2 separate regions of the Homo sapiens genome follow, and region 1 is linked to region 2. Evidence: fine-mapped QTL for protein levels in blood plasma. A gene starts in region 2. The other region holds a variant in brackets. All regions are shown on one strand. Distances are between the middles of the regions. Region 1 overlaps NID2 (nidogen 2). Region 2 holds the start of NID2 (nidogen 2).

Region 1 (5,304 bases), 25 kb after region 2:
CAATATTCCACAAAACTGTTTAAAAAGACTCCCAGGTTAGCTTAACAGTAACTAGTTAGCCCATTGTAATTACAGTTTAAGTCTCATAATAGCCTTTCATGGGAGCCTGCTCATTGTTATAACTTCTTTTTCTGTAATAGAAAAATGTAGTACAGCTTCCAATCTATTTATAAACCTTTGCACAGTTGCACTTGTAAGTTGCTGGCTGCATCGCCCTGCCTCTTTTTACTTAGATAAAAGCTATGACTCCACCTAGTTTAACTCTCCATATCTAGACTGTCTCTCCTCCATCTTCTCTCTCCTTGTTTCATAATTCAGCCTCAGAATAAGAATTGGGTTGCAGAATAAGGCTTCACAAAATAACTGAAATAAGATACAATCCAAGCCTGTTATTTCCTTAATTTGTGGGCAGAACAGCTTGTAAAGTTTGGATTGATTTTTATCTGAATATTATGAAAACGGCTTTTTTTTTTTTTTTTTTTTGAGATGGAGTCTCTCTCTGTCGCCCAGGCTGGAGTGCAGTGGTGCGATCTCGGCTCACTGCAAGCTCCGCCTGCCAGATTCACGCCATTCTCCTGCCTCAGCCTCCCGAGTAGCTGGGACTACAGGCGCCCACCACCACGCCTGGCTAATTTTTTGTATTTTTAGTAGAGACGGGGTTTCACCGTGTTAGCCAGGATGGTCTCAGTCTCCTGACCTCGTGATCCGCCTGCCTCGGCCTCCCAAAGTGCTGGGATTACAGGTGTGAGCTGCCGGGCCCAGCCAAATGGCTGTTCTTTAGACCTATAGCAGATTGCCTTTTTACTTGGTGTTCAGAAGTACATTAAGAAGAAATGCGACTTCTGGCAATGCAGGGGTGAGGAAGAGGTGTTCTACTTATTTTAGAGATGAGGAAGCTGAAAGACAGTTTGCATAGTTTCCACAAAGCCCCCGAGGGAGGGCTGAGGTTGAGTCCTAGAGCTTGGCGCTTTCTGCAGCCCCTCATTCCTTGAGCTCTGGGAGAAAGTCCTGATGGCCCTTAAGCCATGAGCACACTGGTGAGTGTGTGAGTCCCTCCTGTAGCTGCTTCCTTACACTTAGTTGTGAATTTCTGAGCTGGAGAAACCTGAGATTTTGACACATCCAAGTTACATTCATTTCCTTTTACTCTAAATGTTTTTTTCCCTTTCTTAAACTAATAGACAGTGATACAGTTTTCTTCACAGCCATCTATTTTACCATGATCCATCCTGGGTTTTTTTTTTTTTTTTTTCTGCCTTGAGTTTTATATCACTTTTCTGTTTAAGTTAAGCTTGTCACTTTCTTGTTTAAATAAAGTTGAGTCATGCCTAATTTTCTATTTTTATCAAACTGGAATTTCTTAGCCAAGTCATCAAGGCCCTATACTAAATCTTGAGTCATAACTTCATTCCTACTATGTTCTAATCAGATTTTCCACTTGAACCTACACTGTCTGTCCTGCCAACCCTCAGCTTGCTGCTTTCCCAAGGATCTGCAGGCAGCACTCCAGTACTGTTCAAAAGCTAATGCCGCTGCTGCTACTCTCATTTCTTACCTGTGCTGTTTTTCAACATGCTGTAATAGTCATCTCGATAATCTTCCCTGCTTGCTTCTACCATTAAACCCAGTTTATAAAGTATGACTCGAATTATACTTGAAGTCTGTGCTGATTAACCCCAGACATGTGGTGACCCCTAATCTAGTGCTCATGATCTCCGTACTTGGATCCCATTGAAGGGGTCGTGGAGAGTAGCAGTTAAGATTCTCCAGCTAGATGTCCTAGGTTCGGTTCCCACCTTTGCCACTCACTGCCTATGCGACTTCAGGTGCTTTAGTCTACTGTGCCTCAGCTTTATCTGCAAACGGGTTAAAAAATTGTCCCTGGCCAGAGTGGTGGCTCATACCTGTAATCCCAGCATTTTGGGAGGCCTAGGTGGGAAGATCACTTGAGCCCAGGAGTTCGAGACCGAGACCAACCTGGGCAACGCAGGGAGACCCCTCCCCCCAACCCACCCTACCAAAAAATAAAGTAGGCAGGTGTGATGCATGCTTGTGGCTGCGGCTACTCAAAAGGCTGAAATAGGAGGATCACTTGAGCCTGGGAAGTCGAGCTTTCAGTGAGCCGAGATGGCACCACTGCTCTCCAGCTTGGGTGACAGAGCAAAACCCTGTCTCAACAACAGCAACAAAAAAAAGTCCCTGCTACCTAGGGTTGTTGTGCAAATTAAGAGTTGTTGGCCGGGCGGGGTGGCTCACGCCTGTTATCCCAGCACTTTGGGAGGCCGAGGCAGGTGGATCACGAGGTCAGGAGATCAGGACCATCCTGGCTAACATGGTGAAACCCTGTCTCTACTAAAAAATACAAAAAATTAGTCAGGCGTGGTGGTGGGTGCCTGTAGTCCCAGCTACTCAGGAGGCTGAGGCAAGAGAATGGCGTGAACCTGGGAGGTGGAGCTTGCAGTGAGCTGTGATCGTGCCACTGCACTCCAGCCTGGGCGACAGAGCGAGACTCCGTTTCAAAAAAAAAAAAAAAAAAAAAGGTTGTTAAATGTAAAGCTTGTATATGTTAAGCGCGATTGAAGTGTTAACTTTGTTATATTTTTATTTGCTGATGGAGGTCTTTATCTTGGTGACATTGTACCTATAATGCTATGTCTCATTAGCTCCTTTACTTTCTGTTCTCCCTGGGAATACTGGGTAAAGATTGATCTTTGGATTTCTTCCTCCCCTCCTGTCTCCTCGTTTCCAGATAGACCTGGAACACAACTACCACTTGGTTTTTCCTAAGAGTAGGGTGGGTGTCCTCCTTCATGCCAGCATCCGTGTCTCACACTAGAATTCCATGCCATCCCTGCTCAACAGCATGCTCCTGGAGTCTCCAGCCAACTCCACCTCCTGGGGATGTGGAGGCAGAGGTGTGTGCAGCCGCTTGGCCTCCTGGTGGCCATGCTTGGGATTGGCATATTTCCTAGTGCCCCGGAGAAAGCACCCTCCTGTCCATCCACAACCCCCGCCACACCCTACCCCCTTGGCTATTTCCTTTATGAACTATGGCATTTGCTCCAGTTTCCCCATTTCTTTGCAGCACAGATGGCCCTCTTCTTTTAATGGGCAGAATAAGTAGGAAATGGAAGAAACAGCTGCCAGAGCACTGAATTTATCCTAGTCCTCCATAATTTCTTGGAAGATCTGCGAGTGGGGCCCAAGCTGTCTGCTACTGCGTGGAAATCATGCTTGTACCATACCCATCATAGTTAAACCCTGCCAAGGGCATAGGGCATTTTAATAGCTTGAATCCCTGTTGTTTTGCCCTCCTCTGTCCCCTTCTCCCCATGCCTTTTCTTTGAGGTAGGTGCGTGTGTTCTTTAAGACCCTTCCCTCAAAACAATCTTGGTAGCGAGACCAGCTATTATCTTTTTTAAGTTCAGTGTTCCCTAAAAGAAGGATGGTTAGACATAAGACATTTGTTAGCTTCTCTATTATGTCTTCCTCTCAGGATGTGTTTAGGTTGAACCATATAAAAGTGCTGATATTTAGCCCTTTTTGACCCACAAAAATAGTGGTTTCATGAAGTTCAACCTAACATGTACTTACTGGTTTGCTTTCATTTTACTGCACTCAAACCCACGGGTGCAGTCTCATCTTAGTTCACCAACTCTGCAATGGGACCCAGCCGGGAGCAGTAAGCAATTCTTCTTGCCAGCAGACAAAGCAGATTAATTCCCTTGGGTTGAATGTTATGCCGGTCTCTTAAACATCAAAAACTGTTTGTTATGATCTAAACTGCTTCTATGGAGCAGATGTTGTGTCCCCGATGCAGCAGTGACATTGGAATCATTTAGTCCTTTTAAGGCAAGTTTGTTTTATTTTTCAGTCTTCACGTATAATGCTGCCAACAAGGAAACCTGTGAACACAACCACAGACAATGCTCCCGGCATGCCTTCTGCACGGACTATGCCACTGGCTTCTGCTGCCACTGCCAATCCAAGTTTTATGGAAATGGGAAGCACTGTCTGCCTGAAGGTAATTGACTGGGGCCAGGAACTCCTGTGTGTCTATTCCTGCTGCTTACCTGTTTCCAGCTACCACTGTGAGCTCTGCTTTATGGACCAAACATCTCCACTACTTAAATCAGAGTGCTATCAACTTGCAGGTGCTCAATAAATGTGTGAGGAATGAACTGGTTTGGGCTGATTCCCAATTTGAGGATTATCCAGAAATGCTTCCTTCTGCCAGCTCATTAGAGCCAAAGTGTAGTGGAGTAGAAGGAGGAGGGGAGAAAACAGACTGGAGGCAGGACTGTTTCATAGATGGATAATTGGTTGGTTAGGAAATCATTAAAGTGACTTGCTAAAGAGTGAGTTTTGGAAGTTGTCAGTGGAATAATTATACCTGGGTACACCCATCTCTAGCCAGGATGACGTCCAAGCCTAACTGGATTTGCTGTCTTTTAGGGGCACCTCACCGAGTGAATGGGAAAGTGAGTGGCCACCTCCACGTGGGCCATACACCCGTGCACTTCACTGATGTGGACCTGCATGCGTATATCGTGGGCAATGATGGCAGAGCCTACACGGCCATCAGCCACATCCCACAGCCAGCAGCCCAGGCCCTCCTCCCCCTCACACCAATTGGAGGCCTGTTTGGCTGGCTCTTTGCTTTAGAAAAACCTGGCTCTGAGAACGGCTTCAGCCTCGCAGGTGAGTAGGGCCTCTGAGAAGGCCGGTAGTCAGCATTGCTTTGGCAGTGGTGCTCCTTGGGGCACTGTCTTTAGGCCTTTACGCAGTGACAGAGGAATCACTTGTTTAATGTACTAGAGCCACATGTGTGTAGTTTTCTGGCCACAGGTTGTTGGGAATGGTTTGACCTCACATCACTGATTTTTGAAAGGCAGTGATTTCGTCTAAATGTTCTCCCAGCTGTTCTGAGAAACAGGATGATTCCATTCAGAACATTTGTGTCCTCTTACCCCAATTTGTTGC[A/G]GCATATTTGTCAGGCTTTTTAAATTATGCACAGATCTGTCAAATGCAAAAATGGTACTTGGGGCACCTGGGGATGATTTTACTTCATGGGGAAGGGGTGCTCTTCTCCTCCCAGCTCCACAACCTATAATAGTATAGGCCGGTGCACCCCAGACTTGAACCTGCACACACATCACTTGGAGGTCTTGTCAAAATGTAAATTCTGGTTCAGCAGGCCTGGGGTGGGGTCCGTGATTTTGCTTTTCTACCAAGCTAGGAGGTGAGGTACCAGTGTTGCTGGAAAGGCCACCCGTTGACAACAAGGATTTAGAAGATACTTTT
Region 2 (5,375 bases):
AATTTAGTGGTTAGGAGTGGAGGTTTAGAGATCAGACAGAATTGGGTTCAAATCTCAGCTTTGGTACTTACCAGCCATGTGATAATAACTGATTTTTTTAAAATCCCATCTGAGCTTTAGTTTCCTTAACACAACGACTACCTGTTATCAGTTGTCTATTGCTGCATAACAAATTATCCCAAAATGTAATAGCTTAAAGCAACACACAGCTTCTTCAGCTTCTGAAGCTGAAGCTGTAATTCTCAGTTTTGGTTGGTCTGGAATCCCACCAAAACTATAATTATAATCTAACCAAAACTATAATTCTCAGTTTTGGTGGGTCTGGAATCTGCACCTGGCTTAGCTGGGTCCTCTGCTTCAGGGTCTCTTGCAAGGCTGCAATCAAATGTCAGCCAGCGCTGAGATACCATCTCAAGACCCAACTGGGGAAGGATCCGTTTCCAAGCTCACTGACATGGTTGTTGGCAGAATTCAGTTCCTTGCTGACTGTTGGCCAGAGGCTGCCCTCCTCAGTTCCTTGCTATGTGGGCCTCCCCGACATAACAGCTTGCTTCATCAAAATCAATGAGAGGGAAAGTCAACTAACAAGGAAGAAGCCACAATCTTATTTAGCCTTCTTCTCATCACTCTTGCCACACTATGTTTGTTAGAAATCACAAGGCCAGTCCACACTCCCAGGGCAGAGATTATACAGGGGAATGAACACCAGGAAATGGGGATCATTGGAGACCATCTCAGTGTTTGCTTGCCCCAAAGCTCATAGCTTAGTACCACTAAATAAATGTTAGTTATTATTATTATGCTGAATCGAGAGATAAAGTAAAACTACAGAGGGCCAGTAGTTTTATATCAGGGAGTAACTTCAGATGATGTTGGGCAAGTCAAGTCATCTGTCTTTGAACTTTCATTTCATCCTCAGTAAAATAAAAATACCTGACCCCAGAAAGAATGAGAAAATATATGTGCAAGCATAAATATATTTTTGGAACATCAAATATACAACTCTCCACTCTGAGGAAGCAAACTGCTTTGGGCCAGTTTTCCATTTTGTGTCTGCTCTATGAGTCTCACAGTCTGATGTCTTCACGTTTTTTAGCGTTTGGTCCAGTGGGCCCATAGGAATAAACACCTACAAAGAGCAGTGTGTCTCTGGAGAGTCCTTTAAGGCATTTCCAAGGATTTGCTTTTTGGTTTTTTTCTTTCTTTCGTTCTTTTTAAATATCTTTGCTTTTAAGGACCTCATGGGGGGCCTGGGAGAGAAAACAGACTGTCTGGGAAATTTTAAGCTCTTGATAATAAAAATGGTAATAAAATCTCCTCCAGCTCCTGAGGCTTCGCAGAGGGGATGTTTATGGTGGATGGGGTTCCCCTTCTCCTGCGCAGCTGGTTTCGAGGTTGTGCGGTTTCCAGTCCTGCGGAGCAGCTCAGGTTACCGCCTCCGTGGCCGCGGGGGAGGGCATCTCCGACGGCCGCAGCAATGGGCAAGAGATCAGGGTCTTCCCATCCCCGCGACTCGCCCCTTTCTGCCTGGTAACCAAGCGGGATGCCTCATCCTACTCCCCAAACGGAGCGGATCACACACAGTAGTATTTCATGGTCTTTCCTGCTGCGGTTTTCCCGGGGGAAGGTACTTCCAGAGGGTGGCCAAGTCTTCCCTAGCGGCCGGCCTTCGGGAGGGGGACAGAACTTAGGAGTCAGCCCTCTGCCTTCGTACAAAGGCTCGCTTCTCCTCAGGGCGTCTCTGGGTGGAGCGAAGCGGCCGAGGGGACCACGACAATGTCCCTTTGCTTTTCGGACCGATGGCCAGGCCTCCAGAGCCAGGAGCGCCCGGGACCCCAGGGCAGGGAGCAAAGCTCATACCGCAACCCCGCCACCCGCCCGCGCCCTGCCAGCCTGTTGGGGCCACAGCGCGCAGGCCAGCAGCCGCACTCGCCGCTGCGGGGTTCCCTTTGCGCTGAGCTCATCTCCTGCAACGCCGCTGCCCCAAACCTTGCGGGCCATTTGGTCCCGGGGGTGGGGCTCCTTGGGGGCCGCGGGGCAGCCCGGATGAGAGGATGACCCGGGAGCTCCCTGGGGGCGGAGTGGAAGGGGCAGCTCCAGGCAGCCCTGGCCAGGAGCTTTTACCCCGCCAGCCCCGCTGCTCCAGCGGCCGCTGCCTTAGAAAAGTTAACGAGAACCAGATGTGGTGGCCACTGCCGAACTTTCTCAGAGCCGGTGATTGGTCCCCAGCCGAGGGCCTCAGCCAATTAGCTTGCTGGGTGGGCCTGGAGTCCCGCCCCGCCCAGGCGCCCGCGGAGATCCAGGTTCGAGGCTGGCGCGGCGCGGAGAGTGGGCTGGAGGCCGGGGCGGGACGCGTTGTGCAGCGGGTAAGCGCACGGCCGAGCGAGCATGGAGGGGGACCGGGTGGCCGGGCGGCCGGTGCTGTCGTCGTTACCAGTGCTACTGCTGCTGCCGTTGCTAATGTTGCGGGCCGCGGCGCTGCACCCAGACGAGCTCTTCCCACACGGGGAGTCGTGGGGGGACCAGCTCCTGCAGGAAGGCGACGACGAAAGCTCAGCCGTGGTGAAGCTGGCGAATCCCCTGCACTTCTACGAAGCCCGATTCAGCAACCTCTACGTAAGTTCAGCCCCCTCCTGGCACTTTTCCCGCAGCTTCTTCCCTGGGGTCGGTCTCACGGAAACCCTGCCTCCAGAGGGGAGGAAACAGACCCCACTCCTGGAGCCCCCCAGCACCCTTGCGGTGGTACCCGGCCAGAGAGCGATGCCGCTGCCTGCCCCGCTGCTGTAGGGGAGCAAGAATGACCTGGAGGGGAGAGCAAGAATTGTTCGCAGCCACGTACGCGTCCCAGGCAGAAAAGGTGGCGTTGCTAGGGCGGCCAGCGGGCTTTGCAGTTAGGACCGCGAGAAGGCTGTGCCCGTCTGCGGAGCTGGGGTGTTCCCTCTTCAGACCTGGAGGCTTCCTCTCCGAGGACATGGGGCTCCGGGGTTGTGAGGGGAGTGAGAAGATAGGTGAACGAGTTTTAGGGCCCCTGGACCTACTGCAGCGCGGAGCTGGGACAGTCGCAAAAGTTGCGCTTGTTTCCCTGAATCCAGACTCCCTGGCCAGTGGGGAAGGAGAGAGAGGCTTTTTGCCTAAGTCAGTTCCCTTCCCTCCCTGCGCGAAAGGGTAGCGTCCTTGGGCTTGAGCGACTGTCACCTTTTTGTCCCTCTCCTCTCCCAGGTGGGCACCAACGGCATCATCTCCACTCAGGACTTCCCCAGGGAAACGCAGTATGTGGACTATGATTTCCCCACCGACTTCCCGGCCATCGCCCCTTTTCTGGCGGACATCGACACGAGCCACGGCAGAGGCCGAGTCCTGTACCGAGAGGACACCTCCCCCGCAGTGCTGGGCCTGGCCGCCCGCTATGTGCGCGCTGGCTTCCCGCGCTCTGCGCGCTTTACCCCCACCCACGCCTTCCTGGCCACCTGGGAGCAGGTAGGCGCTTACGAGGAGGTCAAGCGCGGGGCGCTGCCCTCGGGAGAGGTAAGTGACCAGGGATATTTGACTGCTGAGGAAATTGAAGGATGGGCTTAAATTCTGGGGCAGCGACCCAGGGACTGGCTCGGAGTTGTTTCTGAGCCTACTCTTGCGCTGAACCTGACCTTGGAGGCAGCAGGGCTGGAGTGGCTTGGGAGTGAGGAAAGACGTTGTCTCTAGGCATCTTCTGAGGCCCTGGCAGGTGGTCACTCCCTTGAGGAAAAAAATGCTTAGCGGATATGAGAGCGGGAGTGCAGATGTGGGAGCCCCTTTGAACATAAGGCAATTTACTGTTTGGTTGCTTATTTTTAGAACCATCTCTAAGTATACAAGTATTTCTAATTATATGTTCATTGAAGGGGAAAAAATCAGAAAATACAGATAATTTTAAAAAAGAAAACAACCACTCATTTTCCCACCACTGATAAACATTTTTCTGCGTACATTTTCAGAGTTTTTTCTTCTGCATATCTTTATTGCTGTCTATTAACAATGATGAGTTTACACTGCACATACTGTTTTATAACTTGCTTTTTTCACAGAATAGTGTATTGTAAATATGTTTCAATGTCAATAAATGTATTTCTACATCATTTATAATGATGCATACTACTGTATCCTGCTATTATCCTGTATAATAGTGGGTGTACCACAGTATGCTCAACCAGTGTTGGGCCATTAAGGCTTTTTCTGGTTTTTCATTATTATAAATAATAGCGTGAATCACTTTTTAAAAAGCTAAATCTTTGCACATGTTCTTAGTTGACATTCCAGGAAGTGCAATTGGTAGGTCAGAGAGGATGCACTTTTGATAAAGTTCTTGATAACTTCTGCCTAATTGCCTTCCAGGTACCAGTTTACAAGTTTCTTAGTTTATAGGAGTCTGCCGTCAATGTGCTTTACAGTCTCTACCTGCGGAAAGTAAAAAATTCCAGGCTCCTGGTCTTTAGTCTTGTCATCAACATTTGAAGTCCTCCAAATGGATATGAGTGGGGCCAGCGTGCTTGGTAAATGGCAAACTGCCTCATTCCTGAAGAAAGTAAGGGCTTCCTTCTATGGAATTAGACCTGAATCTAAAATACCATACTCTAGGGGCTGAAACCATATGATTCATCTCAATTTTAACTTACGGAAATGCTTCTTCACTATAGAAGGATGGTACATGCCCCCTGTAAGAGGTGAGGTTGCTTGCCCATGTCACTGATCTCTATCTTGTAAGGATGCTGTGACTTATATCTTTTGTATGGGGACTCTTTATTTTTTAATTTTTGAGGGTACATAGTAGGTGTATATATTTATGGGGTACATGGGATGTTTTGGTACAGGCATGCAATACGTAATAATCACATCTTGGAGAATGGGGTATCCATCCCCCCAAGCATTTATCCTTTGTATTACACACAATCTAATTACACTCTTAGTTATTTAAAAATGTACAATTAAGTTATTATTGACTATAATAACCTGTTATCACAGGTTATAGTCACCCTGTTGTGCTATCAAATGGTAGGTCTTATTCATTCCTTCTATTTTTTTTTTTTTGGTACCCGTTAACTGTGTCCACCTTCCCCTGACCCCTACTACCCTTCCCAGCCTCTGGTAACCATCCTGTTACTCTCTATGTTGCATAAGGACTCTTTAAATGCAAGGTTTTTGGAATTAAAACTTTTGTCTGGTCCTTTTCTGGGGTGGGGGAGGTTTAGGGTAGAAGAGATTTGTAAATTCCATCTCTCTTTTACTTTTCTAATTAAAATCCACCTGCAGACATTACCATTTGCTAGTTGGCTTCAGAATGTTTCATTAAGAAAACTAGAAATACCATTTGACCCAGCCATCCCATTACTGGGTATATACCC

Evidence for each region. PIP is the chance, under the fine-mapping model, that this variant and not a neighbour inherited with it causes the effect. Protein levels are from antibody-based Olink assays in UK Biobank. Linkage for the fine-mapping came from a reference panel and not from the study's own genotypes, which makes the PIPs less certain.
Region 1: its variant is fine-mapped to the plasma level of the NID2 protein (UK Biobank, PIP above 0.99).

The regions. Positions count from the first base shown.
Region 1 is chr14:52,041,502-52,046,805 of GRCh38, reverse strand. NID2 (nidogen 2) reads left to right here. Exons shown (of 22, transcript NM_007361.4): 6 at 3,875-4,024; 7 at 4,456-4,701. Among named protein-coding and RNA genes, the nearest start is that of NID2, 25 kb to the left of the region's middle. The variant A/G (reference allele first, on the strand shown) is at 4,984.
Region 2 is chr14:52,066,008-52,071,382 of GRCh38, reverse strand. NID2 (nidogen 2) reads left to right here and starts at 2,324. Exons shown (of 22, transcript NM_007361.4): 1 at 2,324-2,616; 2 at 3,220-3,525. The coding sequence starts at 2,389. It overlaps LOC105378180 (a long non-coding RNA gene), which reads right to left and starts at 2,147. Exons shown (of 2, transcript XR_943864.4): 1 at 1-2,147.